Linked DNA regions of Homo sapiens: region 1 is linked to region 2. The links come from fine-mapping of genetic effects on gene expression. Tissue or cell type: whole blood. Region 2 holds a variant in brackets; the other region holds the start of a gene. All regions are shown on one strand. Distances are from middle to middle. Region 1 holds the start of HPS1 (HPS1 biogenesis of lysosomal organelles complex 3 subunit 1). Region 2 overlaps HPSE2 (heparanase 2 (inactive)).

What was found. PIP is the estimated chance that this variant, and not a neighbour inherited with it, causes the effect.
Region 1: it holds the start of HPS1, and the variant in region 2 is fine-mapped to the expression of HPS1 in whole blood (INTERVAL, PIP above 0.99).

What each region holds. Positions count from the first base shown.
Region 1 is chr10:98,443,516-98,456,275 of GRCh38, reverse strand. It overlaps HPS1 (HPS1 biogenesis of lysosomal organelles complex 3 subunit 1), which reads left to right and starts at 9,341. Exons shown (of 20, transcript NM_000195.5): 1 at 9,341-9,469; 2 at 10,872-10,976. HPS1-AS1 (HPS1 antisense RNA 1) reads right to left here and starts at 9,955. Exons shown (of 3, transcript NR_134454.1): 1 at 9,519-9,955; 2 at 2,887-3,077; 3 at 2,471-2,773. RefSeq lists enhancers at 1-536, 2,427-2,928 and a silencer at 9,174-9,523.
Region 2 is chr10:98,458,773-98,474,459 of GRCh38, reverse strand. It overlaps HPSE2 (heparanase 2 (inactive)), which reads left to right. Exons shown (of 12, transcript NM_021828.5): 12 at 14,721-15,687. The coding sequence ends at 14,886. Among named protein-coding and RNA genes, the nearest start is that of HPS1, 20 kb to the right of the region's middle. RefSeq lists silencers at 6,414-6,513, 6,564-6,613. The variant G/A (reference allele first, on the strand shown) is at 7,519.

The DNA.
Region 1 (12,760 bases), 17 kb after region 2:
TGTCAGCACTGGGAGTCTCTGTGGCCCCCTGGCAGTGAGGACTCGTGTGCTAACCACTTAGCCTCTGGTGGTCATGGCGAGGCCCAGCATCTGCAGGTGTGCTCCACAGGCACTCAAGGCCCCAGTGTCTGGGATGGATGCAGCTGCAGGATTCACCTTGGAAATCCATTGAGAGTAGCTTTATGTTTGAAAACAAAAGGGCAGTGTTGAGTCTCTGCAGAAGCAAAGGTGAACCAGGTGGATCCCTCTGACGATAAAAACACAAGGGGAAGGGAAGACTAACATTTTGAAATATCAATAGAGCAACCAAAATTAATAGTGCTGTGGCTTGGAAAAGGCAAGAGAAGAAAGGGCATAAACTTTACCTAGCATGGCTTCCTCCACTTCTCCTCTCTCCAGCATCGGCACAACTGCCCCAGCCTGGCCCCTGCTGAGTGCTCGTTTCCACCAACTTACTCTCCACGTCCACAGACTCCCCTCTGCCAGCCACTCTGTGCCCAGCCAGGAGCCCAGGGAAATCTGCTGTATTGAAGTGAAGTTTCCATTTTAGAATTGTTTGTAATCTTTTCTTAGGATATACCAGGATTGAAAAGCAGATAAGAAGTACTCCAAAGAGAGATAGTGCTAAAATGAATTTTATTATTATTATAAGGCCCAAACAACTGGGACATACAGAACCCTTCTCTCTGAGTTCCACTAACCATGGCACGAAGGCTTCTGTGGCTGCCCTTCCTTGATCAAGTGCCTTCTTCTTATCAGACGTGCTATTTTATTGAATGCTCACAGCAGTGCTGGGTGGTATGGTAAGTGTTCAGACCCAATTATAGATGGGGAGGATTAGAGAAAGAACTTGTTCAAGACCACCCAGAAAAACAGTGTGGCAAAACTAGGAGTTGAACCCAGGTCTGTTAAAAATTTCAAAGCCTGCTATCCCTACACTGTGCTACCTCTCACCTGACTGATTGTAGCCACCTATTTCTCATCTCTGTATTGCCCACAGCTAGATTCCTTAACATCTCATGTGTGTCCTACAGAGAACCCTAGCAGTGCCTTACCCCCAGTACAACTGCTCTCTGGTTTGAGGATGCCAACTAGAAGCTCTTGTGAGTAGTGAGTAGTAAGTAGTGTTGTGGACAGCCTTTGCTGTAGAACTTTGAGTCCAGGTTCACCTTGGCCGATCAGTGGTCATCCTGGTCTGTTCCGCTATGATTTTCTTTTTTCTTTTTCTTTCTTTTTTTTTTTTTTTTGAGACGGAGTCTCCTTCTGTCGCCCAGGTTGGAGTGCAGTGGCACGATCTCGGCTCACTGCAAGCTCCGCCTCCTGGGTTCACGCCATTCTCCTGCCTCAGCCTTCAGAGTAGCTGGGACTACAGGCGTCAGCCACCACACCCGGCTAATTTTTTTGTATTTTTAGTAGAGACGGGGTTTCACCGTGTTAGCCAGGATGGTCTTGATCTCCTGACCTCGTGGTCCGCCCATCTCGGCCTCCCGAAGTGCTGGGATTACAGGCATGAGCCACGGCGCCTGGCCTCCACTATGATTTTCTATAAAGCAGTTTTAAGGACCACTCCCACCATCGCCACCAATCGTAGGTGAGAATCTTCAGTATTCCTAAGGCCTGAGAGGTGAGTGGCAGAGCCAGTCAGCAGCCCGCCCCCGCCCCGCAACACACACACACACAGCTTCTATGAGTGCTGCTCCCTGGCCCCCATGACCCAAAGGTCAAATCCATTAACCATTGCCCTCGGGGTAGTATTTGCAAATACCACTTTAAAAAAAGAAAGTCAAAATCCAGCAAACCAACTGCTTTGGCACCACCTCCTTCCAAACACCAAGGCAGCCCCTGTGAGCGCTGGGAGCATTTTGGAGGAGTTGACCAAGTTCCATATGACTTAAATCCCAGGGTCCCAGGGTCCTATGCACACAGCAGAGAAAAGACGCCCTTCCCATGTGAACATTACTCTTCTAATTATTATTCATGAAAATATTCTAGGATTCTTTTTCAAGTTATAAATGTTATTTGATAATTTATGTTTTTGGAAGAAGCAAAAAGAAACTTTAGTTTTGTTCATCTGGAAGTTGGCAAAATGAGTTCAGGAATACCTCCCAGAAAAAGTTTCCTCTCTGTGCAGGGAATTTTAACAGGTTAATATTTTCTTCCAGAAAACAGAGTAGATTATAGTTTATGGAACCTGGTGATTGTAGAGAGTTTGGGTCCAGGGGGTAGTTTGCATTTTGAGGTAATGTTTTGTAAGTAATAAGATGCGACTACTCTAACTTCCTATTCTCAGGGTGTTCTGTGGGGAGAGGGAGGCAACTGCTGCCCACACTACACCCTGACCTTAAGACTGATTGACTGATGAACTAACACGTACTGGGGATCTCTGATTTCATGGTGTGCTGCCCTCCTCCCCTCCCCCACAACCTTTGCTTCAATTACTCTAAGTAGAAATTGAATTTCATAACTCCAGTTAGATGTCATTGACTATATTAGTTAAAGTCATTCTTAACTATAATAACAGTTAAACCCCAGAAACTCAATGACTTAACACAGTCCAAGTTATTTCTCGCTTATAATTCATGTAAAGTTGAATTGGTGGTATTGGGGTGGAGGTGGTGTTCTGTTCCATCGACGTGCCCAGAGCAGTTGGAGGCCCAACCTGGAACTGGAGTCAGTCCTTTCCACTCACTTCTATTGGCCAGCAGTCATTTGGTCCCATCTGGATGCTAGAGGAAATGCAGTCCTTATCTGGGCAGGTACCTTCCAACAACAGCTGTGTTTCATGGAAAAGGAGCACAAAACTATGATGGATGCTAGAAGACCAGAGAATGGGTCAATGCTGTTAGATCCCTCTGGCTGATTTGTCTTCAAGTGAGTATTACATACCATTTGTGTGTGGTGGTATCTAAATCCACAGGACCTTTTTGCACACTCCATAGTAACCTAAGCTTCCTTCTCCATCTCCTCCACTTCTAAAGTCCTGCCTCTCCTAGTACTTGGCTGATTTTTGTCAGAAAACAATCTGTGTTGCTCCACTGCCATCCAATGTAGATGCACATAGTAGAAGATGCTGCCCCCTGTACCAGAAACATCAAAAATATAATTTGAAACCTCAAATAGCAAAGTGGGTTAAAAGGTAACTAGAGAATCATAGAGGCCAACTCTAGACCCAATGAACAGTCACACCTGGAGATCACAACAGGCTATTCCACTGATTTTATCCACCTCAGAAGACAAGTCACTCAGCCTCTCTGGACCTCAGTGTTCTCATCTATAAAATGAGGACTTTGGATTTAAGTGAAATCTAAGTTTACCTGAAACTCCCTGTTGTCTGATGTTATGTCAGATGGTCTCTGGTCCAAGTGCTATTGTTTTTCTATTTCCTCCTCATGTTAGCTTATATATTAGATAACATCCTTTTGAGAAGTTTCAAAGTTAGCTTTAAATTGTTGCTATTTCTACCTAAATGCAACGTGCCTTCTAGAATGCATGCACATGAAATTCAACACAGATAACACGTTTTGAAGATCCTCTCACCCTCAGGGATAGTGTCCTGATTTTATTTTTGAGTTAATTACTTGACTCTTGCCACCCCAGTTTCTTCCAAGCCGTGATTTAGTGCATATTTAATGCAGACTAAGCATGCCCCAAGGCATACCCACCTTGTTAGGTTTTTAAAAGGAAAAGATTGACCTCACATAGGAGAAATTAGTTAAATTGAACTTTAAGACAAGTACGTGGGGTTGCTCCAGCAGCAACTGAAATGTATTATAGTAGAATTTCACCACGTATGCACCTAATGTCTTGGAACTCAACTATGTCTACAAGTGCATGGGTGGTGGGAGGCTGAGAAAATTGGAGGAGACAGTGAAAGGAAAGATGAAGACAGACAGGGAGAGAAAGAATGAACAATCAAAATAATGCAATGAGAGATGCAGGAAAGAATAAAAAGCAACGTGAAGGGTAATTATGTGGGAAACTCTAAATAAATATAATCTAATAATAACAATGTCTCTTGCAATTTAAAATAGGTAAATAATTAAAAATGCATTACAATAATACCATACATATTGAAAGCTGGTAAATGGAAGATATATTAACATCCTTACATTTTCAAGAAAGAGGTAAAACTACTAATTTACATTAAACTTTGATAAGTCAAGGATGCATGTTTTAGTCTCTATGGTAACCACTGAAAGAATACTTAAAAGAGTATATTCTTTAAGTGAATGGAGAGGCAGTGGAATCATAACAAAAACGCTTCATCTAACAGAAAGCAAGAAAGAAGACAAAGATAATGAAGAACAGGACAAACAGAAAGCAACTAGCAAGATAATAGATTTAAAACCAAATTTATTTGTAATGGCACTAAATGTAAATGGAATAAATGCTCCGATTAAAAGATGAAGGTTGTCAGATAAGATAAAAGAAAGTTCAATTAAAAGCTATTTCAAAAGAAATATCTAAAATATAAGAAATTAAAAGGAGTAAGAAAAAGATATGCCATGCAACAAAAGGTGATGTCCTTATGTTTATATGAGACAATAAATGCTTTTGTAAAACCAAAAAGCATTGCTAGTGATAGGGACATTTCATAAAGATGAAAGTTTTGATTTAACAGTAAGATATATAATTATAAATCTGCATGTACCTAATGACATCTCCTATATGTGAAGCAAAAATCTAACAGAAATAAAAGGAGAAATAGAAAAATTTGCAATTATAATAGATTTTTAACTGCTATTTCTCTCAGAAAATGAGAGAAAAGGCAGACAAAAATCAGAAAGAATAGAAAAGATTTAAACAATACAATTAACATTTTATCTAAATGATATATGGAGAACATTACAACAACAAATGAATAAAGTCCTTTTTCAACAACACATCGAAATATTTATAAAACGTGGTTATATACTGTGACATAAAGTTTCAAAAAACTTCAAAGAATAATAACATACAATGTATTTCTGACAGCAGTGGAATATAAGTGGAAATTATAGATAGATGATAGATAGATAGATAGATAGATAGATAGATAGATAGATAGAGAGATAGAAAACTAGAAAATCTCCCTGTGCTTGAAAATTAAGAAACACACTTCTTAATATTCCATGAGAAAAAAATCAGAAATCACAATAAAAAGAAAATATTTTAAACTAAATGGAAAAGACTACATATAAAAATATGCAGAAAGAACTTCCAATTTCTGGTAATGTTACAGTTGTATCAGACTGACCCTTTTGCCAATAACAATTACGAACCTTAGACAAAATTTGAAAAAACAATTCTTTGAAGGCAATGCAGAACAGCTAAGAGCAGGCAGAAACTGCAGGAGATATAGCTCTTGAATGAAGAAAATCACACTGGGTGATATCCACATTTATTTGGCTTTTCTCCTGAAGGAATTCCCCTAGTTCACAACAAAGAGCAAGGTCCATCAGCAAGCAGCTATTATATTAGACCGTGGAGTGACATTGGTGTTCAAGACTGCCAGAGCAGCTGAAAATTGAATGGAGAGGGAAAGGGAACAGGTGGGAGAAACTTAAAAAGCTGGTACAAAGTACACTCAAATATCTGGCTGACCTCTGAACTATACTCTAAATAAATCAAAAGAAAAATTAGCATTTTAAAGTAATTGAAAATGAAAACATGGCAGATAAAAAGTTGTGGGATGCTGATAAAGCAGGACCTTGGGGAAGATCTACAGCACTCAACTCCATTAGAAAAGACAAAAGGTCTCAAATCAGTGGCCTCTGTTTCTAGAAGAAAAAAAAACCCAAAGTAAACAGAAGACACGAAATAGTAACTATCAGAACAGAAACTGATGAATTTAAAAACAGGATCAATAAAAATTGATTCAACCAAAAACTGCCTCTAAGAAAATCAATAAACTCCTTTTAAATTTATTGAACATAGACTCCAAAAATAGATTCACACACAGATGGTCAACTGATTTGAGACAACGTGCCATGATAATTAATCCAATGGAGAAAAGATTGATTGATTTATTTATTTGAGATGGAGTTTCACTCCTGTTGCCCAAGCCGGAGTGCAATGGCACGATCTTGGCTCACTGCAACCTCTGCCTCCTGGGTTCAAGCGATTCTCCTGCCTCAGCCTCCTGAGTAGCTGGGATTACAGGTGCATGCCACCACGCCCAGCTAATTTATTTTTTTGTATTTTTACTAGAAATGGGGTTTCACCATGTTGGCCAGGCTAGTCTCCAATTCCTGACCTCAGATGATCTGCCCTCCTGAGCCTCCCAAAGTGCTGGGATTACAGGCATGAGCCACCACGCCTGGCTGAGAAAATATTTTTTTTCAACAAATGGTTCTAGAAAAATTGGACATCTATATACAAAACACACACACACACACACACACACACACACACAAAAGACTAAAACCTCAACCTTCTTTCACATCACACACAAAAATTAACTCAAAATGGATTGTGAACCTAAAGACAAAATCTACGACTATTAAATTTCTGCAAAAAAGAAAAAACAGGAGAAAATCTCTGTGACCCTGGCTAAGCAGAGACTTTACATAGGACACAAAATGCACAAAGATTTCTGCTCTTCAAAAGTCACTGTAAAGAAAATGAAAAGACAAAGCCACAGACTGGGAAAAAAAAATATAATAAAGGGCTTGAATTCAAACACATAAATAAATAATAAGACAAACAATCCAATTTTTAAATAGGCAAAATTTGAACACTTAACATACTACCACATACCTACTAGAATGGCTAAAGTTAAAATAGGACAATATCAAGTGCTAACAAGACTACAGAGCAATTACACCTCTCAGTGTTGCTAGAAGGAATGTAAAATGGTACATCCACTTTGGAAAATGGTTCAGCAGTTTAATATAAATTTAAACACAGACTTACCATACAGCCCAGCAATCCCATGAGTAGATATTTACCTAAGAGAAATATAAACTTATGTTGAACTACCTCACACCCATTAGGATGGCTACTATAAAAATTTTAAAGAAAATAGAAAATAGCAAGTGTTGACAAAGATGTGGGTAAACTGGAACACTTGTTCCAGGTTGGGAATGTAAAATGATGCAGCTGCTGTGGAAAACAGTATGGTAGTTCCTTAAAAAATTAAAAATAGAATTACCATATGATCTAGCAGTTTCTCTTCTGGGTATATGCCCAAAAGAATTGAAAGCAGAGTCTCAAAGAGATATTTGTACACTCATGTTCATAATGGCCTTATTCACAATGGATGTAACCCAATTGTCCATCAGCAGATAAATGGATAAGCAAAATGTAGTATATACAGACTATAGAGTATTATTTAGGCTTAAAAATAAAGAAAAAAGGAAGGAATTCTCACATATGCTACAACATGAATGCACCTTGAGAATATTATGCTAAGTGAAATAAGCCAGTCATAAAAAGACAAATACTGTATGATTCTACTTATATGAGGTACTTAGAGTAGTCAAATTCATAGAGACAGAAAGTAACATTGTGGTTGCTATGAGGAGGAATGAAGAATTGTTGTTGTTGTTGTTTTTGTTGTTGTTTTTGAGATGGGAGTCTCGCTCCGTTGCCCAGGCTGGAGTGCAGTGGCATGATCTTGGCTCACTGCAACCTCTGCCTCCTTGGTACCAGCAATTCTCCTGACTCAGCCTCCTGAGTCACTGGGACTACAGCTGTGTGCCACCACACCCTGCTAATTTTGTATTTTTAGTAGAGACAGGGTTTCACCATGTTGGCTAGGGTGACCTCAAACTCCTGACTTTGTGATCCGCCCGCCTTGACCTCCCAAAGTGTTGGGATTACAGGTGTGAGCCACCACACCCGGCCAGCATTATTGCTTAATGGATATAGTTTCAGTTTTAAAAGATGAAAAGAGCTGTGGAGATGGATGGTGGTGATGGCTGCATAGCATTAGGAATGTAGTTAATACCACTGAACAATACACTTAAAATGCTTAATGATCAATTTTACATTATATGTATTTTACCACAAACAAATTTGAAAAAAAGAAACATGTTGACACAAAAAACCCGTACATAACTAAAAAATAGATTATATTGGATTACATAAAAATGTAAAACTTTGGTGCTACAAATGATACCACTAAGAAAGTGAAAAGACAAGCCACATAATGGGAAAAAAACTTTTGCAAATCAAGTATCTGATAAGGGGCTTGTAACCAGAGCATATAAAGAACTCTTACAACTCAATAATAAAGACAATTTAAAAATGGATAAAGGATTTGAATAGACATTTCTCCAGAGAAGGTACACAAATAGGCAAAAAGCACATGAAAAGATGCCGAACGTCAGGGAAGTGCAAATAAAATCACAAGACACCACTCCACGCTGGGTTACTATACTTAAAAAAAAAAAAATCAACAATAACAAGCATTGGTGAGGATGTGGAGAAATCAGAATCCTCATACATTGCAGTTGGGAAATGGAAATTACCAGTAGGGGAATGAATAAGTAAATAACAGCATATCCATTTGATGGAATTCATTCGACCACTGAAAGCATAGTGAGTGAACGATCTCAACGGTGGGCTGAGCAAAGAGATGCGTGTGGCAGGGCTATGTGCTGTAGATGGGGAGTTGGAAGAATTTGCCCTAAGGTGGGCTGGAAGGGGTGGGTAGTGGGTTGGGGGGAGTGATGCTCTCTTTGATCTGCAGGTGGTGGAAGTATTGATTCTTAGCCTCTGCCTTTCCCCCAAGAGATGCTCAATCTACTATATCCCCAGCCAGTTCTTGCAACCCATACCTTGCTGGGCTGGGCTCAAAGCTCCCAGGTGGCACCCAGGCACTGAGGGGTGGACTGTTCGGGGATTTAGGCCCTTCCAGAGCGCCCCCTCCACTTCCAGGCACCCCCAATACACATACGATTTTTTAAAATAAATATTGCAAACATAGGTTCAACACAAAACTCCTAATGTGCACTCCACTCCCAAAATAGATTGAGAACTCCTATAAATTCCAGCGTTGGCACTCTGGGGGCAACTGAGCCCTTCTGTGCGCTATGTCACCTCCCCAAAGGTCAGGGAGAGCAGTCACAAAAGGACAGCTCTAGCCCCAGAACTTCAGTTCATTAGGCAAAGCCTGAGGTTCCGGGGCATGGGGAGGAGAGAAGGGATCAGCTGAGGAGCCAGGAAACCTGGGTTCTGAGCCTGGTTCGGACCCTCAGCAAGTTATTTCTTCTCTCTGCGCCTCCGTTTCCTCTTCTGTAAAATGGGGCATGGGCAAGGCCTGGCAGGGGCGGGGCTCGAACCCGCGGAAGGCGACGGCGGCTCCGGCCCCTCCCGGGGCGGGCGGTCACGTGCGCGATCACGCGGTCCTACCCGGAAGCGCGCCCGGGCTCCTGCAGGCGGGGCGCTGTGCGCGCCGCGATCCGGTACGTGGGCCTCCGGGCTGTCCCCTCTGGGGGCGGCGATCCTCCCTCCGGAGCCCCCCTTCAACCCTCCCGGAAGTGAGGTAGGGTCCCTAGGGGTCCCGGAGCGGGCCCACTCCTAGCCTCACCCACTCCGGGCGTGTGGCCGTGGGCCGGTCGCTTCCTCGCTCGGGGCCAAAGTTCCTCAGCCGTGAAGAGGGGTGGATGTCACAAGTCAAGCCTCCTTCCCAGGGTGGCCGTGAGGTTCGGGGGTGGGGGGAGGTGGGGATTTGGGGTGAAACTGGACAGAAACTGGCGTGCTAGGCAAACGGGAGCCCCGCGGCGGCGAACTGCTGACTCGCTCTCTCCAGAGACTCAGGGGCAGGGCCGGGCTCCGAAGGTGTGGGACCCCAGAAGGAGCTGCTGAAGACGGGACCAAGGGCCACAGGGAGGTTTGCTGGGGTCCAGATGGTGAAAGTGGGCGCTGGGGGTCGCCCCAGGTTGGCCCCCCGCCATCTGGAGCTCCTTTCGTCAGTGAGTCCCCTCCGAGTTCCCTTTCTAGGGCAAGATAGCGAGGTGAAGCGGAAGTCTCAGTGTGACACCGGCGAGGTTCTCTTCCCAGCAGCCTTTGGGAAGCATCCCCCTGTTTCGGGAATATGGCATTCGGGCCAATCATGTGGGTGATGGAGCCCGTCTCAGGGTTCGGCTGCTAAAGGCCGAACTCGTAACAGCAGTCTCTGTGGCGGGTAGTCACTTGCCTCTTACTGGCTCACAGTGCTTGACTTCCTAATTAAGTTTTCTGTTGTTCCTGCCCTCTATTCAAATATGAATGATTCCGGAACCAGATTGATTAATCCTGTTATTTGAAGAAGGGAAGCTGGGAAATAGGAATAATGATCCCCACACCTATGTAAGAACGCAGTTTGCTAAGGTTACTTTGCAGCTTGCCTGGTCACTCCCATGATCTAACCCTGTAGGGAGGTAGAGTAGGGGATGTTGCTCTGTTTCTCCGCAGGAGTTTGAGGCTCAGAGAGGTTTATGGGACTTGGCAAAGCCAAAACTAGAACCTGGTCCCAGATGCCTTTCCTGTTAGTTTCCTTCCATTCATCGTATCATCCCAGGATCCCCACTCCCTTCACCGGGACTGCATCCTCACCACCTGGGATGTGCTATGCTGTCTCCCGTCAGTCACTCCTAGCAAGCTCCCTGGGGCTGCTTGGGGAGCTCTGAGTGACCCGCAGAAGTGAGAGCACTTCATGGGAACAAAGGAGGAAGGAACAAAAGTGGGCACCTGCTCTGTGCAAAGGGCTGTGCTGGCCGGGTTCCTATTCTCCATTATGGGAGGTGAGGGGCAGGATCCCAGATATGTTCTTAGCAGACTGCCTCAGGGCCTGGAGAGACCAGGGACCACGCAGCCCTTCTCCAGCTTGTCCTTTCTCAACGGGCAGCAGTCAAGACCAGGGCATCTGCCTGCCCTCATATTCTCTCTGTTTTAAGCATTTGCAGGACCAGGGATGCTGTGCTGCTCTCCCATGAGCCAGTCACCGAGTCGGTCTGCTGCAGCCCTTTCTGAACCTCTGGCCGTCTGGATGCTCCACTGTGCTTGCCAAGGTAGATGATCTTGCCCCACCTGGGGAGGACAGGGAGGCAGGCAGCATCCACCCTGGGGCTTTGGGAGGCAGATGGAATGAGGTAGGCAGTGGACTGAGTGCTACTGGGCTCTGCACACCTGCTCATCCCCTCCCCAGCCCTGCATCCTGAGGCCACCCCCATCCTGATGCCTCATCTCTCCTTCACCCCTCGAATCCAGGCAGGTCATCACAGCCTGCTGCATCTTTAAAGCTCCTCCCAGCCCCCACCAAGGGGTGAGCACTCATTACCTGACACCCGCACCTAGATGACCGCCTTCATGACCTTGACCTGCCCATCTCCAGCCAGCCGGTCACTTCTCCGCTCACAACCACAGCCTCCATTCCATAGCCCACTGCTCCCTAACCCATACACTCTGGTCAGCTTTGTCACATGTACCTGGGAGTCCCAGAGCAGCCTCTTCAGGTCCACCCGCCTCTCCCAGCAACCTCCTTTTCACACCTGTTGCACTCTCAGTGTCTGCCTTGGCATTGAGTAATTCTGTGGGAATAGGCTGCATTCCTTCTTCACTGTGCTGTTATGTCTCCTGGCATTTGCCATAAATACCTTGGGACCAGTTGCACCAAGTTAGTTTGGGAGGAATTCAGTAAGGACCACTAAGCTGGACATGGGGATGACGGAACACAAGACCTGGAGATGCTGTGATCCTCCCAAGAAAACTGGAAATCCACTTGTGTGAGAGTTACAGCAGAGCTTCCTAATCATTGTCATGGCTTAGCGCACATACCACATGATTATATCTGCGTGACACCCTGAGGCACATAAGAGGATTTGAAACCACTGCCTGAGGCCTCTTAGCTGCAGCAGCCAGCCTGGAGCACTGTCCTCACCAGCCTGGTCAGGCTGCCCCAAGTTTTAGAAGATCGAGGGTTTGCCGCACGCAGAGGGCCATGGCACACAGTGTGGGAAGCTGTATTAAAGATCTTCCAGTGGGTGAATAGTTAAGACATTTCTTACATAATCAAGCACAGAGTGTGTGGTGTGTGTGTGTGTGGCGGGGGGGTGGGGAAGGAGATTTGGGAGGGCTGAAGACACTGGTGGCTGTGGCCCTAGAAGCTGCAGCCTACTAGGTACAGGGGCTTTAGGCAGCCTCTGTTCTCACCATGAACAGGGAGAGCAGCATTTGAATGAAACTTCTGTGGTGCTGAAGTAAATTCAGGGGCTTTGAGGCTCATCTTCTGGAGCTGTTTTTTGTTTGTTTGTTTGTTTGTTTGTTTGTTTTTTCAGACAGAGTCTCGCTCTGTCACCCAGGCTGGAGTGCAGTGGTGTAATCTCGGCTCACTGCAACCTCTGCCTCCCGGGTTCAAGCAATTCTCCTGCCTCAGCAGTTATCCCGAGTAGCTGGGATAACAGGCACTTGCCACCATGCCTGGCTAATTTTTGTATTTTTAGTAGAGACGGGGTTTCACCATGTTGGCCAGGCTGGTCTCGAACTCCTGACTTCAGGTGATCCACCCCCCTTGGCCTCCCAAAGTGCTGGGATTACAGGCGTGAGCCACCGCGCCCAGCCCTGGAACTGTTTTTATCTGAGGGAGAGATATCTCTGGACTGCCCAGAGATGGAGGTGCACCAGTGCCCTCCGATCCACACCAGGCACTAACTGGCTGCCGTGAGCATGGCCTCCCTGGGCATTCGGCTCCATGTCTAGGCCAAGACCTGGGTCCCTTCCTGTGCCAGTCTGGTTCCAGTAGGCCCCGTGGTGGGTCTGTTGCTGTGCTGAGAGGGACCAGATACCACAGAGGAAA
Region 2 (15,687 bases):
ACTTTAAAAATATCTTCGTGTCCCTGTTGGAACAGACCAGACCATATTATGATATTTCATCTCTGGATTCAGAGCTTGGCTAATGTGAAAAATCCTGAGGGGTGAACTGGCCACCCACCTGACCCGCCACAATCTCTCACTAATGATACCTGAAAGCACCATGTTTAGTTTCTGGACACAGAGAGATCAGGTAAAAGAAGCTTTGGGAAAAACCTTAACCCCATTAATTCAATACCACGACTCAGACACTCAAAAACAAAATATGAAGACTTGTTTCTGGGACCAGTAGGCCATTTGTCCATTTATCCCAGCAGACTCAAGACATCTAAGTATTTTAGTTCTACACTGCTGATATTATTTGGTACCTACATTTTTTGAACTCTGGTCAACCAGATGTACTCCCTGCAGGTTTCCATTATCTTCACTTGTCTGGGATCATTTAAATTAGTTTCTTTCAAAAATAAACCATTCTATGAAAGTTCTATAGTTAGTAAAAGATGACTTTATAAAGGTAAAATTTCAAAGAACTCATACGGGTCAAGAGGTTTCTTCTATAACATCCCCGACAAAAAGCTTTTCAGTTTCTGTTTGATGGGATGGCTCGTCTCAGGAATTGGCTCATGCTAGGACTAGACAGCTCTGATTGTAGGAAAGAGCCTCCATGTATTAGGCCAAAGGTGTTTTCTTGCCCTTTCTACTCTTGCTTTGGAAAAAGTAAGAAGAGAAAATCTATATCTTCTTCTTTATCAATTTTTCTATATATCTACCCTAAAAGCTCTAGTCTCCAAGCTAAACACTCTCAGATCCTTCAACCATTCCTCAAATGACCTGGTGTTCAGATTGCTCACCTTAGAATCCACTGAGTTTTAGAATTTTATCTCACAGGATTAACCTTTCAATTTTCTCTTCCTCTCTTTCTTTCTTTCTCTCTCTCTCTTTCTCTTTTTCTGCCTTCTTTTTTTTTTTTTTTTTTTTGAGACAGAGTCTCACTCTGTCACCCAGGCTGGAGCGCAGTGGTGCAATCTCGGCTCACTGCAACCTCCACCTCCCTGGTTCAAGGGATTCTCCTGCCTCAGCCTCCTGAGTAGCTGGGACTACAGGTGCGTGTCACCAAAACTGGCTAATTTTTGTATTTTTAGTAGAGACGGGGTTTCACCATGTTGGTCAGGCTGGTCTCAAACTCCTGACCTCAGGTGATCCACCCATCTCGGCCTCCCAGAGTGCTAGGACTATAGACATGAGCCACCGCGCCTGACCACCTTTCAATTTTCTTACCTCATCCAAACTTAGTTGAAGAGGTCTGAGATGGAGGAGGAAATATGAACATTTTGTTATTACAATTCACCTCACTAACACAATATAGTAACATTTTTTACATCTTTGCCAACTCCATAATAAAAAAAGTATTCTTATGTTAATTTCTATTCTTTGAGCATTAATGAGCCTGAAGATTTTTCATATGTTAGTATTGTATTGCTTTTATGAATTTTCTATGTCCTTTGCTATTTTTCTGTTGGGGTATTAGTCTGTTTTATTAAGTTTGCTCTAATACAGGTATAAGGCAATTTCCTCCATTGCTATCTATGTATTGAAATATTTTCTCTAGTATTTTATTTGCTATTTTTCTAACTATTAGAGTATTATCTTGACATACAGAAATATTCCCTTTTATATAGTTAAATATGTTTACCTTTCTTCCATTCTACTTATATGTGTATGAATTTACATTCTTGAAATCAGATCAATATGCATCTTTATTTTCTTCCAGATTCTTTTTTGTTTCACTTGTATTCATTTCTTTGATTCACTCGGAATCTGTTTTGATGCATGGTGAAAGGTAAGGAGCCTCAGTGCCTATAACGTTCAGGCTAAGACCATGTGAGGAAAGCTGTTAACCCCTGCAGGGCTTCAGATGTTAAAATATCAGGAAAAAATAGGATAATTTTTTACAAAGCAAGACTTAGAATCAGACATCTTTGACCTGGAGCAAAAGGCCCCCCTGGTGCAGATCAACCACATCAGCTGCAGCCCTTTTGAAAGGCCATTCAGAGCCCCTCAGCAGGAAAGACAAGCTGCAGAGGCTGAGAGCACCGAATGGCAAGAAAGTGCCTGGGATCAGGGAGATTTACGAGCTGGCTGTGAGTTAACAGGAAAGTGGTACTTACTCTAAACACTAGCATTCAGGTTAGTGCCCCAGTTCAGAAAGGCCGAAATAGACACTGTAAAAAGCGGAAATATAAATATATATGTAAGAGTATATATATATATTTATAAAAATACTTATACTTAAGGTTCTGAGGCAGTATATAGAAAAAAAGAAAGAGAAGTAAATATGTAGAGAAATGAGCCTCACAAATCTTGTTAATGCAAGCTTACTCATTGAAACCCAGAGGAGTTTGGATTCTTTTAGCCCTTCTGCTAATTTAAGAGATAGTAGCTATAACCAATGTTAGCTACATAAATAAGTATATACATACCTGAAAACAACAGTGAGGATACTGAATGACACATTCTTCATTCCCTTAGTTCCTCTTGCCTGAAGAGAATTTGAACCACTCTTTGTCTATAAGGAGCTCTCTGCAACACAGTCTAGAACTTGAGAGAAATCTGAATGATTTTATAGAAACTGACTTTCAAGAAAAGAAAAAAGTTGTTCTTTTCAGTGTTCAAGAAACACAGAGTTGGCTATCAGCGCTGATGCTTCATCTGATTTGTTTCCTAAGTCATCCTGTAAAGTGCTACACATGAACATCCCTGGTACACACCGAGGAGCATAATCATCCCACCAAGGTACAAGCGGGAGGGGGCAAGACATCCAGCGAAGCAGTTCCAGTGAAACAGCAAAAATGCTCCCTTCAGTCTATGGAGCAAAAAACTTGTCTTTGGAAAGTTCATATCTTCCTTTTAGGTTAAAAAAAAATGTAGCCTCCTGACATGGCACTCAAAAAGTAAGAAAATCTCTTTTTATTCGAAATAAATTCAGAATGTAACAGTTAGAAAGATATCTGAGTCCCCTCCACCCCCAGCTACAAACATATCCCCGCCCCTTCTTCTACCCGTGGTGTTCAACCTTGGCTGCACTTCCAACTACCTGGGGAGCTTTAGAAACCCCAATGCCCAAGCCACACCCCAGCCAATTAAACCAAAATCTTTGGGTTGGGACCAAGGCACCAGTATTTGTTAAAGCTCCCCAGGTGATTCAAATATGTGGTCAAGGTTGAGAACCACTGTCCCACTATAAACTTCTAGAACAAGATCCCAGATGATTTGTATCTTCGATTTTTCCCAGATTAGATTCTTCATTCAGGCGCTATGCCATTTTGCCAAAGGTGTGAACATGCCATGAGCCCCTGGGAGTTCTCTGTGACTGAGTGGAAGGATGAGTGCTGGCTTCTCAAAGGTTTTATTGTTTGTTTTGTTTTAACTCCCAGATTACTAATGTGGAGATCACTGTGCCGATTAGAGGATTATGAAATGCTTTTATGTTTTACAGCGACTTGACATTTTAAACCAAGATGTTTAGGAATCTAGGCTTTTCACTGTTATTTTCCGAGAGTTTTTTGTTTGTTCTCAGATCCAGAATATATTTTCCTCCAGTTCACTCCCAGCAGCTGGAAACTCTCTGCGTAGCTGTCCATTAAGGCTGTGGTATCCCCTCTTCACCTCCACTCACTTAGGGACCCTCGTTGTAGGCAGGGATTTCCATTCTGTCCCAGATGACCTAGACGAAACACCTGTAAATGGGCAAGTTAGGGTAGAGCTAACATATTTCTAAACAGTTGATTCTAAAGTGAGAGAGCAGCAGAATATGTGGGCAGTTCTGGCTGACTGAGAAGAAATGGCCCTCGTCTTCTTCTTCCCCTGCACCTTCCAGAGGCTGTGATGAAGAAATGTAAGCCTTAAGGAACTGAAAGTTCTAATCCAGCTTATCCCTATAGTGGGGCCTGGGCCCTGAATTGGTGTTTCTTTGGCTGCTAAGCATCAGGAAGCCCAGGGCAGGATGTGGGCTCATTCCAGACAAGGGGCCTGGAGCATTAAACTGTGGACCCACTGCCAAACACCAGCAATACCCGTGCAGACTAGCCTTCCCTGCTTACCCTTGCAACAATGATTCAGAGTCACCCCACACTTTGCACTTGGATATCTGTGGGATCTGGAACAGAGCCTGTACCACCTGAGACATCTTTTTTCCCTTTTGAGATTATACCAGTACACCTGATGTCATGGGGAATACTTTGTCAAAAGTTAATAAAACAGGTATTTATCACCTTAACATGTGTGTTAAACATAACTAAACATGTTATGTTTAAAACGTGTGTTAACATGTGTGCATACACACACACACACACACACACACCTGCCTTCCTACCTGTCTTCACTCCACCTGTAGACTGCTGTAAAGGGGATGCTTTGTAGCCCCACATTCTCTCCTCCAGCTCCACACAATTAGGACTGGGGAAACCTGGTCCCTCTCCACAGAGGCTACCGTAACTCAGAGACAAAACAGACCACCTAAGGGTAAATATAGGAGATGGGATTATGAGAAAGAGAGAGATGAATTCTGACTTGGGAATCTGAAAAGTCTCAGGGCTGAAGGCCGTGGAGCTGGAGCTGGAAGGATGTGCCATACTTCTAGGAAAGGCTGTAGGAAAGGCAACTTCCAGCAACAGGATGAGATCACTAAGGGTTTGGAAGTACAGAAGTTCAAGGCTCATTTTGTTTGGGAGGTGGCAAATCATCTCATGTGACTGGAATACAGGATGCTTTGTGGGGCAAAGGGAAAGGCCACAAACACATAATAAGCCCAGACTGCAGAAGGCCTTGAAATCCAGGCTAAGTCTGATTTTCCTCCCTTCCTGCTCTTTGTGTAATATCTTTATATGGTGTGTCTGCTCAGACATTTGCATATTTCAGTGTTTTCTTAGAAGACAAGGAGTAAGTCTATTGTAATTTAATTGGTACAATGAAAAGAACGATGGAACTATGAATAATGCCCCTTAAACACTACTTGTAAATGTTGATGATGATGGCACCAATTCTTTACAGTGGTAGGGGGACATAGTTAACCACATGCTGAAGTCTCCATGGTTTTTATAGCTGGTTCCTATTGTGTCCTGTGGTTTGAGTGTGATATGCCTATGACATGGAGCTTTGAGATGGCTGCAGGATCAGATTTTCTTTCCAAACTTCCCCCAGATGATTCCCTCATCTGCTGGGAGTTAACAATATCAGTATAAATCCAGGTTCCTTAGTCAGGCTCTCATCTTGTCTGCCAAGTGTGCTAAATTATTTTAAGCCATTAGAAGCACATGGTAGAGTCCATTATGGATTGGATCACTATTACACAGACTTGGATAGAATACAGATCAAATCCTGACCCCCAAACCACACTACATCCAGGAAAAGCCTATATCCCTAACAACTTGCCTACAAAACCCCCAGCTCTCCTTGTATAAAGGGTCCTGGTATTTTCTCTGGTCAGTGATACAGAAGCTAGATCAAAACTGCTCACCATTTCAGCGTGTCCCTCAGAGGGTAGGATGGAGGGCAAATAAACTTCTCAGCCTCAAAATGTCTTAGGGACAAGGAACTCCAAATAGGGTATGGGCTGTTGGAAGGGCAAGGGAACAGGATACTATTTTCCCCATTTTCTCTCTCTATCCCTTACAGTCCTCTCTGTTAACAACAGTAGAGGAAGAGATTGGAACATACAGCCAGGCATGACTCCTAGAGCAGTTGATTGAGCAGAACTCAACAAGTATTAACTAAACAGCTATCATGGACAAAAAGGCACTGAGCCGCATACTATTGAAAATTGAGAAATGAAAAGTCAGTAGCAGACAAAATGACCCAAGCACACAGATAAAATAAGCCTGAGAGGGACGCTAAAAGGGAGATGCAGATAATGTGCCGCTCTCCCAGCTTGTTATCAGGTGAGGTCCCAAGCAGGAGGCTACCTCTGACAGGGCCTGGAGGGAAGAACAGGCTTTTGAGAGATTCCACCGGATTCCAGGTAGAGCAAAAAGCACATAGAAGAAAAGTTCAGGACACACTTGAAGTAATTGCCCCCGTGACTCCTGAGGAGTGGGAGCACCCCAGAGAGGGTCATGACGGTCTTAGAGCCTTTCCTCCAGCCGGACATGGGGTACCAGGCGACACCACCTGCAGGGGCCACTTCTGAGCAGCCTTCCTCAGCGTGGTAGCCATCACTCAAGGCAATTTCAGACGAACTTCCTGTTCAAGCTGCCCCAGATGCACCGTCTCCCCACCGAGCAGGAAAGGGAAGCAAAGCCCCTCTGTCCTCAAACCTGACTGGGCCTCCTCGGGACTCTAACCTGCCCCTGACCTGGAGAAGGGCAGGGCAGCTGCACATACCAGCTTCCTCGCTCAGCGAGGGGGCCGGGAGCCTGCAAAGCACAAACAGGTGCGGGGCCGACCCGACTGGCGGCCGGGGGCAGCCGGGGACCCGGAGCCCGGGAGAGCCCAGCGCCGAGTCGTGGCGGGCGCCGCAGACCCCGCACCTGCCCTGGGACCCCCCGTTCTCTGCACGCTGGCCGGGAAGCCGGCACCCCTGCAGGAATTGCAGTCCCGTTTCGCACGTTTCCTTAATATTAGGCCACATTCCAGGTGGGACCCTTGCCAACGGGACCGCAACGAAGTTCTGGTTGGGATTTGATTGATTCTGTGATTTGTTCCTCCGGGAGGCCAAGCGCAGGGCACATCTCCCGGCCTTCCTGAGACTGGAGTGCGGGATTTGGAGGCAGGCGGACGCATTCCGGCTTCCTGGGTGCCACCCCGAAGTCAGACTGTCCTGGCACCATTGTGTAGGACAAGAGTGACCTCTAGTGGCCCCTAGGAAAGCACACTGGAGGAAAGGGAGCTGATAACTCAAGCGCAGGCCCATACAAACACACAGTCGGACTTATCTCTCCCCTGCCCCTCCTCCTTTCTCTCCCCCTTCCCTCTCTCCCTCTCTCTCATCATTTAACAATCCAGAAACTGAGACCAGAAGCGGCTGGTCACATACCTAGACCTGCACATTTCATGTCCCAAGCCTGGACTAAAACGGGTTTCTGGCCTTCCTGTCCAGAGTCTTTCCTTCTAGGTAGTAGTTCTTTTGCCCACGTGTTTATATCCAATGTGTCTTTTATTGACGCCTCCTGTGTGAGTGGGCGGACAGAAGAGTGACGGATGAGTAAGACACATGGGCTTCCAATCTAGTGGAGAGACTGACAAGCAGTCAGCTCAGCGGTCACAATACTGTGTGACAGGAGCTGAGATCCAAGAAGTACTGGGTCCTGTGGGAGCACCCCTGACTTGAAGGACAAGTAAGAGTTAGCCAGGAGAAGGAAGCTGGAAGGGAGGAGGAGGGCATATGGAGAAAGGTCCGGGTAGAAGGAAACCGTGTGCAAAACCCCTGTGCTTAGGCCGCGATTAGATAAATGGCCGTAAAGAATGAAAGGAGGTGGGGGTGGAAGGGAGCTGGAAGGGGCGGGAGCTAGAGTGAGCCTCTTGGCG[G/A]TTGGAGAAGTAGATAATAGGGCCTGTGCATGGGGACTTCAGACAATGTTCTAAGATCAGCGGGAAGCCACTGAATATTTAGACAGGTCAATATCATGGTCAGATTTCTGTTTATGCAGGATCACTCTGGGCTTGGCATAAAACTTTGCCTTAGGCTAGCTGTTAGTCATAGGCAACCCAACTGAAAAACGGTTAAGCCAGAAGGGATCTTAGGGTTCATCTGATCTATCACCCCTCACCTTACAGATGGAGAAACTAGTCTCAGAGAAGGCAAATGTTCTGAAGGTGGGTGAGGCAGAACTGATTTTCTTTTCTTTTTTTTTTTTTTTTTGAGACGGAGTCTCACTCTGTCACCTATGCTGGAGTGCAGTGGTGCAATCTCGGCTCACTGCAACCTCCACCTCCCGAGTTCAAGCGATTCTCCTGCCTCAGCCTCCTGAGTAGCTGGGATTACAGGCACCTACCACCACGCCCGTTAATTTTTGTATTTTTAGTAGAGCCAGGGTTTCACCATGTTGACCAGGCTGGTCTCGAACTCCTGACTTTGTGATCCGCCTGCCTCGGCCTCCCAAAGTGCTGGGATTACAGGCGTGAGCCACCGCACCTGGCCAGAACCAATTTTCTTTAAGTCCCTTCACCTCCCACTCAAGGCCCCAAAATATGCTATGCCAGCCTGAACTACACACCAGCTCCCAAGGCTGCTCCTGATAAAACACATAATTCCCCACTAAAGATCCCCTCTTGCCAGACTGTAGTCCAGAAAATTATCTTCAAGCTTTAAAAAGGACATGCTCCCTGACTTACTTCCCTGACACCTCAGAACAGTTGAAACCTTGCTTAAATATCCATGGCTATCGAGAACAGTGATAAGACATGAAGACCAGAGACTGTAGACAGGTGGGCGGAGGGTAGCGGGGGAGTGACCAGGCCAAGGGGCTCCCATGGAGACCTGGGGAGCAGAGGGCTTGACTCCAAACTGACACTTTGAATCCCATTTTAAATAACATTCAAAATTAATAAAACAAGTGTAGGGATTGGAAAATAACTCAGACTTTGTAAAAACAGATGGTGATAAAATGCAGTTGTCCTAATATTTGGATAATTTAAATACCCTCAGCAGTTCAGGCAAGCTAGGGAATTAAGAGAAATAGTTCAACCTAGGCTGGATCATTCAGCATTTGATTTAAAAAGTCACGAGCCATTTAGGAGGTCTCAGAATATGATGAAAATATGATAAGGACGGTTTTCAAAGAAAGAAACATAATCCTGGTGAACACCAGCTGGAATTGGAGAAACAACATGAAATAGTAGAAAGAGGTGGTCAGGAAGCCAGAATTTGAGACCTAGCTTAGCCACTTATTAGCCACATGACCTTGCCCAGACCACTTAACCTGTCTAACCTTGTCCCCATAGTAAAGTTACAATAATAGTAATACTGGCCTATGTATCTCCTGGGGCTCTTTAGCAATCACATGTGACAAGGGAGGCCAGATAGGGCTATGGTTAAGGGCGTCAGTGCAAATCTCAGCTCTACCACTCATTGGCTGTATGGCTTAGGTGAGTTTTAGACCCCTCTAAACTTTGATTTGCTCATCTGTAATACAGGAATGCTAACACCTGCCTCAATTGTTGTAAGGACTAAATGAGATAGTCAAAATAAATCATAGCATAGTGCCTTTTGCATAAATAGTGCTGCATAATTGGTGAATTTTATCATTAATGTGATTATGTTTACAAGCTTACAAGCTGTTCAATGTATCTAAATGAAAGATTATTGTTATATTTAGCATGATATGACTGCTGGGTAACAAGATAAATATTAAAAGAAAAATATAGGCAGGAAGAATAGAATGGAAGTGATAAAGCACATGGCCCATCTTTATAATGAAGGGACTTTGTGGATAAGGATGTATGAGGACTCAAGGTCTCACAAAACCTTATTCACAAAATTAACTTATGCTCACTTAGCTAAGAGATGGTCGCATAGATCTTTTTTAAGGATGGAAAACACTAGCAATGATCAATGGTCTTATGTCAGGTTGGAATGAGGTATCTAGTGAGTGGCTGAGAGAATCAGTGATAATTCAGATCTTATCTAACATCTCCACAAGCCAACAAGAGCAATAGTAATTGGCGCATTAATGAAATCTGTAAACACACTCAGCAAACCTCCAGGGAGCCTCTTTAGAGCTGGAGAAACTCAATCCAGGAAGATCAGAAATAATGCAAAAGAGCCTCAAAAGCCCATTCACTTGCTCAGAAAATATTTAGCCCCTACTCTGTGCCAAGCACCTCTTTAGGCATTGAGGATTCATAGCCCAGTGAGGGATCAAACAAGTAACTCACTACAATAAGGGCCACAGTTAGAAATAACTTTGGGTGCTAAGAGAGTCCAGAAGTGGGGCTCCAAACCCAACCTAGGGGTCAGAGAAGGTTCTCCAGAGGAGGCAACACCTACACAGACGCTGCAAGGATCCATTGCAGTTAGTCTGGCAGAGGAAGACAGCTGGAGGGAGCACCGCACAGAATGATATGACTCGGAAGCAAAACTGCAAGTCATTTTATTTGGTCATGCTAGGGCACGGGGGCTTGGCCTCTTCAAGCATGTGGGTTCCTTTTAAATGTCAACAAATGTCACGGTCTTCCACATTATAGTAATTGTCCTTTCAAAATCTATTCCTTAAAAAGTACATGATACCTCCCTCCCCCAAAAAAAATCTATTGGGAATTGAAGAACAGTTTTAAATGAACTTATGTTTTAATCCCAAAACTGCTGACTAGCATTTACTTTTGAAAAATATTTTCTTTCTTTTTTTGTGTTTTTTTGAGACAGAGTCTCGCACTGTTGCCCAGGCTGGAGTGCAGTGGTGCAGTCTGGCTCACTGCAACCTCTGCATCCCGGATTCAAGCAATTCTTCTGCATCAGCCTCCTGAGTAGCTGGGATTACAGGTGTGCGCCACCACACCTGGCTAATTTTTGTATTTTTAGTAGAGACAGGGTTTCACCATGTTGGTCTGGCTGGTCTCAAACTCCTGACCTCGTGATCCACCCACCTTGGCCTCCCAAAGTGCTGGGATTACAGGCGTGAACCACCGCACTCGGCCTGAAAAATGTTTTCTACCTTTTTGTTATTTTGGAGACAGGGTCTCACTGTGTCACCCAGACTGGTGTGTAGTGGCACAGTCTCAGCTTACTGCAGTCTCAATGTCCTGGGCTCAAGCAATCCTCCCACCTCAGCCTCCCAAGTAGTTGGGACTACAGGCATGTGCCACCACACCCATCTAATTTTGTTTATTTTTTTGTAGAGATGGGGGTCTCACTATGTTGCCCAGGCTGGTCTCAAATTCCTGGACTCAAGTGATCCTCCTGCCTCAGCCTCCCAAAGTGCTGGGATTACAGGCATGAGCCACCACACCCAGCCTACTATACTTTTGAATTAACTTGTGTATTTCAATCCCAACAATATCTACTTACATTTTCATTGAGAAATATTTACCTCATCTCTGTGAAAGACATTATTTTTTCATTCGTCATCTTTGTGTATGCATATATTAATGAAATTCTTACAATAACTGGCAACCCCCTACCAATGCCCACTCCCAGAGGTCTGCGATCCACAGTGAGCGTTGGAGGGGGGACTGGCGGGATCTGAGACTGGAGAGGTAGCTGGAGCTGGGTGTCATTGTTCACAATAAAGTGTAAGGGAAGGGGAGTGTTGGCAAGTTTGAAGCGGTGCAGTGACAACAGATAACTGTCAGCAATGTGGCACAGAGATAGGTTAGGAGGCAAGTTCTGAACTAAAAAGATAGCAGTGGATGGAGGAAAAGGAGCAGATTTGAAAAACACTATAAGGTCGAATTATTTTGACTTGGCTACCCTACACAAGGGAATTGGGGGAGAAGTCTCAGAAGACTCCAAGCTTTCTGGGTACAGTAATTGGATAAATGGCGGTACCATCACAAAGATAAAAAAAAAAAAAAAGCAGAGATAAGGACAGAGTTTGAGGAGAAGATTTTGAATTTGGACCTAGTGACTTTGAAATTCCTGTGGACAGCCAAGTGGAGATACAGAAGTTCATAGAAAGAATGTAGGTAGGGTAGAGATACAAGCTTAGGGAGCATCAGCTTGTGGATAGTGACCGAAGTCAAGGGTGAGAGCAGCAGCAACCTGGGAGGAGTGCAGAGTGTGGGGACAGAAGAGTCCAGGGACAAAACACTAGGAACCCTAGCATCTGAGAAGCAGGCAGAGGGGAATGGCTCCCTCTCAAAAAAACAAAAACAAAAACGAAAACAAAACGCCATCCAGAAATGGAGGAAAACAGAGAGAAATATCATGGGAGCCAAGGGGAGAGAGGGTTTTGAGAATGGAGACCTGAAAATGTGAGTACCACAGAGCAGTCAGGTATGATAAGGACCAACAAGTGCATCTGTCCACAGTGACATTAAAAACAATAGCAACAACAGGTCAGACACGGTGGCTCATGCCTGTAATCCCAGCATTTTGGGAGGCCAAGGCAGGTGGATCGCTTGAGGTCAGGAGTTCGAGACCAGCCTGGCCAACATGGTGAAACCCCGTCTCTACTAAAAATACGAAAATTAGCCAGGTGTGGTGGCACATGCCTGTAGTCCCAGCTACTCGGGAGGATGAGGCAGGAGAATCATTTGAACCCAGGAGGCAGAGGTTGCAGTGAGCCAAGAATGCACCACTGCACTGCAGCCTGGGCAACAGATCGAGACTCCATCTCAAAAAAATAAATAAATAAAAATAAAAAGAACAACAACAACAAAAACACCATATCTTAAGTATATGGTTCATTATGCTTTCAAAGCACTTTCATATTTCTTATTTCATTTCTTTGGTGCCTATATAACGTTCTTACAGATGCAAAAGCTACAGGGCAGTGAGGTTAGGGGATTTGCCAAAGCCATCTAGCTAGTTAGCAACTTGGCTCCTGGAATTCGAGATTTCAGTAGAGAATCTTCACCATGCTTCCTGGTTCTACTCTTAGCTTTTTAACCAACCAATAAAGAAACCAGAATAGGGCCTGTTCCAGGACAACTACTCCTTATTAGTATAGATTTTTAAAGGTTTGCTAATCACACGTTGTTTTGCACTCCCCAGAACCCAAAGATGTCAATACTGTGGGATCATCTGAATCTAAAAGGGCATTACCTAATTCTTCAGAAGAAAGGTTTGCACCTAATTCTGTATATGGGAGAAACCATTGAAGGTTTTCTAGCAGAGACCTGATATAAATTTGAGTATGCCTTAGAAAGATTAATCGGTATTATTGAACTCGTGTTTGACTGTGCTTATATCTGGGTGATAGATATTCATAGCACCTGAAACAAAATAATGAAAATACACTGTGAAGACCCATCTGGGCTTCTTTTGTAACTGAACCACTCTCCTCACCCTGCCTTCCACTCCAATGAGTAGGCTGTCTTCACTACAGAGGGTCACTTCTCATATTTGGAAGCAAAAGCTCCTTGCATATCTGATGCGGTCAACACTGACCTTCAGATCTCAATTCTCCCACCCCATGCCTTCCAGAGGCAGGCCTCGCTCTCCATATAGAAGCCTCCTACTCACTTATTCACTCAGTCATTCTAGCAAAGGGAGGGGGCCTGCTCCCTCTGGCCTATCAGATCTGGACCTAGCCCAAACTTACCCATGTGGGGCCAGGCCTGGATCTCTTCTCTGCCTAGCTCTCCATTGGGAGCAATTTACAACACACTTATCTCTGGGAATTCACTGCTCTATTGGGCATGGGTCTGATTATCTCTCTCTAAAGCAGTCTATCATTCATAGCACAGAAGGAACACTAAACAAAGACCTCTATATCAATTTATAACATTCTATTCTCTTTACAGCTCAGATGATGTCACGGCAATGTTATCACACTGGAGGTTGGGCAAGGCCCAGAAACAGTCATCACTATGCAATGTTGATTTTCTGAGGGTGACTCACAACCTTATTTCCAGCTGGTGGCCTGTTTCTGGCCTTTTCTGCTGACCCATAAAACTAAGCTTCCACCTGGGTGCATGGCTGTCAGGAACAGCTGGAACATTATCTGGATTCTGGTACCATAGGTCAAGGATAGGTGGCATTTCCCTCTATCCAGCATAAGATGAGCTGTTTCTCTTTTCTAAGTTTGCTATGTATGTAGTCCCCCTTCTCAGGGTGAAAGTGGCTGGCTATACAGAAAGGATAAAAGCAAGATAGATGAATTGTGATCACAAATGCCTACTTTATCACTTACTTTGCTGTTTTGCTAAATGGAAACATCTGTTAATATTAAATATGAAAACTCATTTTTTGTTTTTTTTAGGGACAGAGTTTCTCTGTCACCCAGGATGGAGTATAGTGGTGTAATCTTGGCTCACTGCAGCCTCAACCTCCCAGGCTCAAGTGATCTTCCCACTTCAAACTCCTGAGTAGCCACCATGCCAGGCTAATTTTGCTTTTATATTGTTTGTAGAAATGGGGTCTCGCTATGTTGCTCAGGCTAGTCTCAAACTCCTGGACTCAAGCGATCCTCCCTCTTCAGCCTCCCAAAATGCTGAGATTATAGGCATGAGCCACTGCACCCAGCCAAAACTCATTCTTAAATTAGAAAAAGTAGAGGTGTTACCTATGTCTCTGTCTCCCTTCCGTATAACCTTAGACAAGCAAGGTAATGTCAGTTATCTAATCTGTCAAGTAAATTAATGAGATATGAGTTAAATAGATTTCTGAAGTCATCTTAAGCCCATGTATCATTCCACAGGTAAAAACTCTTTAGGTGGAAAAGTCAAACTGAGCTGATATTGTGATTTTTAAAAAATAGGAATGAAACATTCCAGCTTCTGCATCACAGACTTTTCACTTGTCTAAATGTGTCTATGGAGGTAGACTACCTGGGTTCAAACCCTGGACCTCCAAGCTGTGTGACTTGGGACAAGTCACCTAGCCACTCTAGATAAAATGGGGATAATGATATTAATAGTTACTTACCTCAGGGGAGTGGGGGGGTTGTTGGGATGTTTGAATGAGTTATTAAAGTAAAGCACCTAGGTCAGAATCTAGGGCATAGCCAGTAACAATAAGTGTCAGCTGTGTGTGTGTATCAGACACTGCCAGGCCATCTGGGGCTAGGCTTTGTTGCAGTGGCTCCCTTATAATGCAATAATGAGTCCCATACTGTTTTTCCTCACTGTAGGTCAGTGCAACTGAATGGCCAGCCCTTAGTGATGGTGGACGACGGGACCCTCCCAGAATTGAAGCCCCGCCCCCTTCGGGCCGGCCGGACATTGGTCATCCCTCCAGTCACCATGGGCTTTTATGTGGTCAAGAATGTCAATGCTTTGGCCTGCCGCTACCGATAAGCTATCCTCACACTCACGGCTACCAGTGGGCCTGCTGGGCTGCTTCCACTCCTCCACTCCAGTAGTATCCTCTGTTTTCAGACATCCTAGCAACCAGCCCCTGCTGCCCCATCCTGCTGGAATCAACACAGACTTGCTCTCCAAAGAGACTAAATGTCATAGCGTGATCTTAGCCTAGGTAGGCCACATCCATCCCAAAGGAAAATGTAGACATCACCTGTACCTATATAAGGATAAAGGCATGTGTATAGAGCAGAATGTTTCCCTTCATGTGCACTATGAAAACGAGCTGACAGCACACTCCCAGGAGAAATGTTTCCAGACAACTCCCCATGATCCTGTCACACAGCATTATAACCACAAATCCAAACCTTAGCCTGCTGCTGCTGCTGCCCTCAGAGGAAGATGAGGAAGGAAAAAAACTGGGTGGACCTACAAAAACCCATCCTCTCCCAACTCCTTCTTCTCTGCCTCTTTCTTGCTGCTGCCCTGAGTTTTTTGACACATCTCTTTCCATAGGGGAGTAATGGGTGTGTCAGCCCTGGCCTGCTGGGAGAGCTGTTTGTATGATTTCCCGGCTGATGTATGAGCGTGCGCATCTGGGTTCCTGACAGTGGCATCCATCACTGGCAGTTCTTCTGGGAAGCGGGTGCTTCAAAAGTAAAATTACAATCACACTCCAGATTTGGTAAGAAGGTTCTATTCCTCTGTGAATCCAGATTCCCCCAGAGTTGTAATGGGAGTCAAGTAACAATATTCATTGAGTGGAGAGCAGTTTATTAGGCACAACAAAAAGTAGTC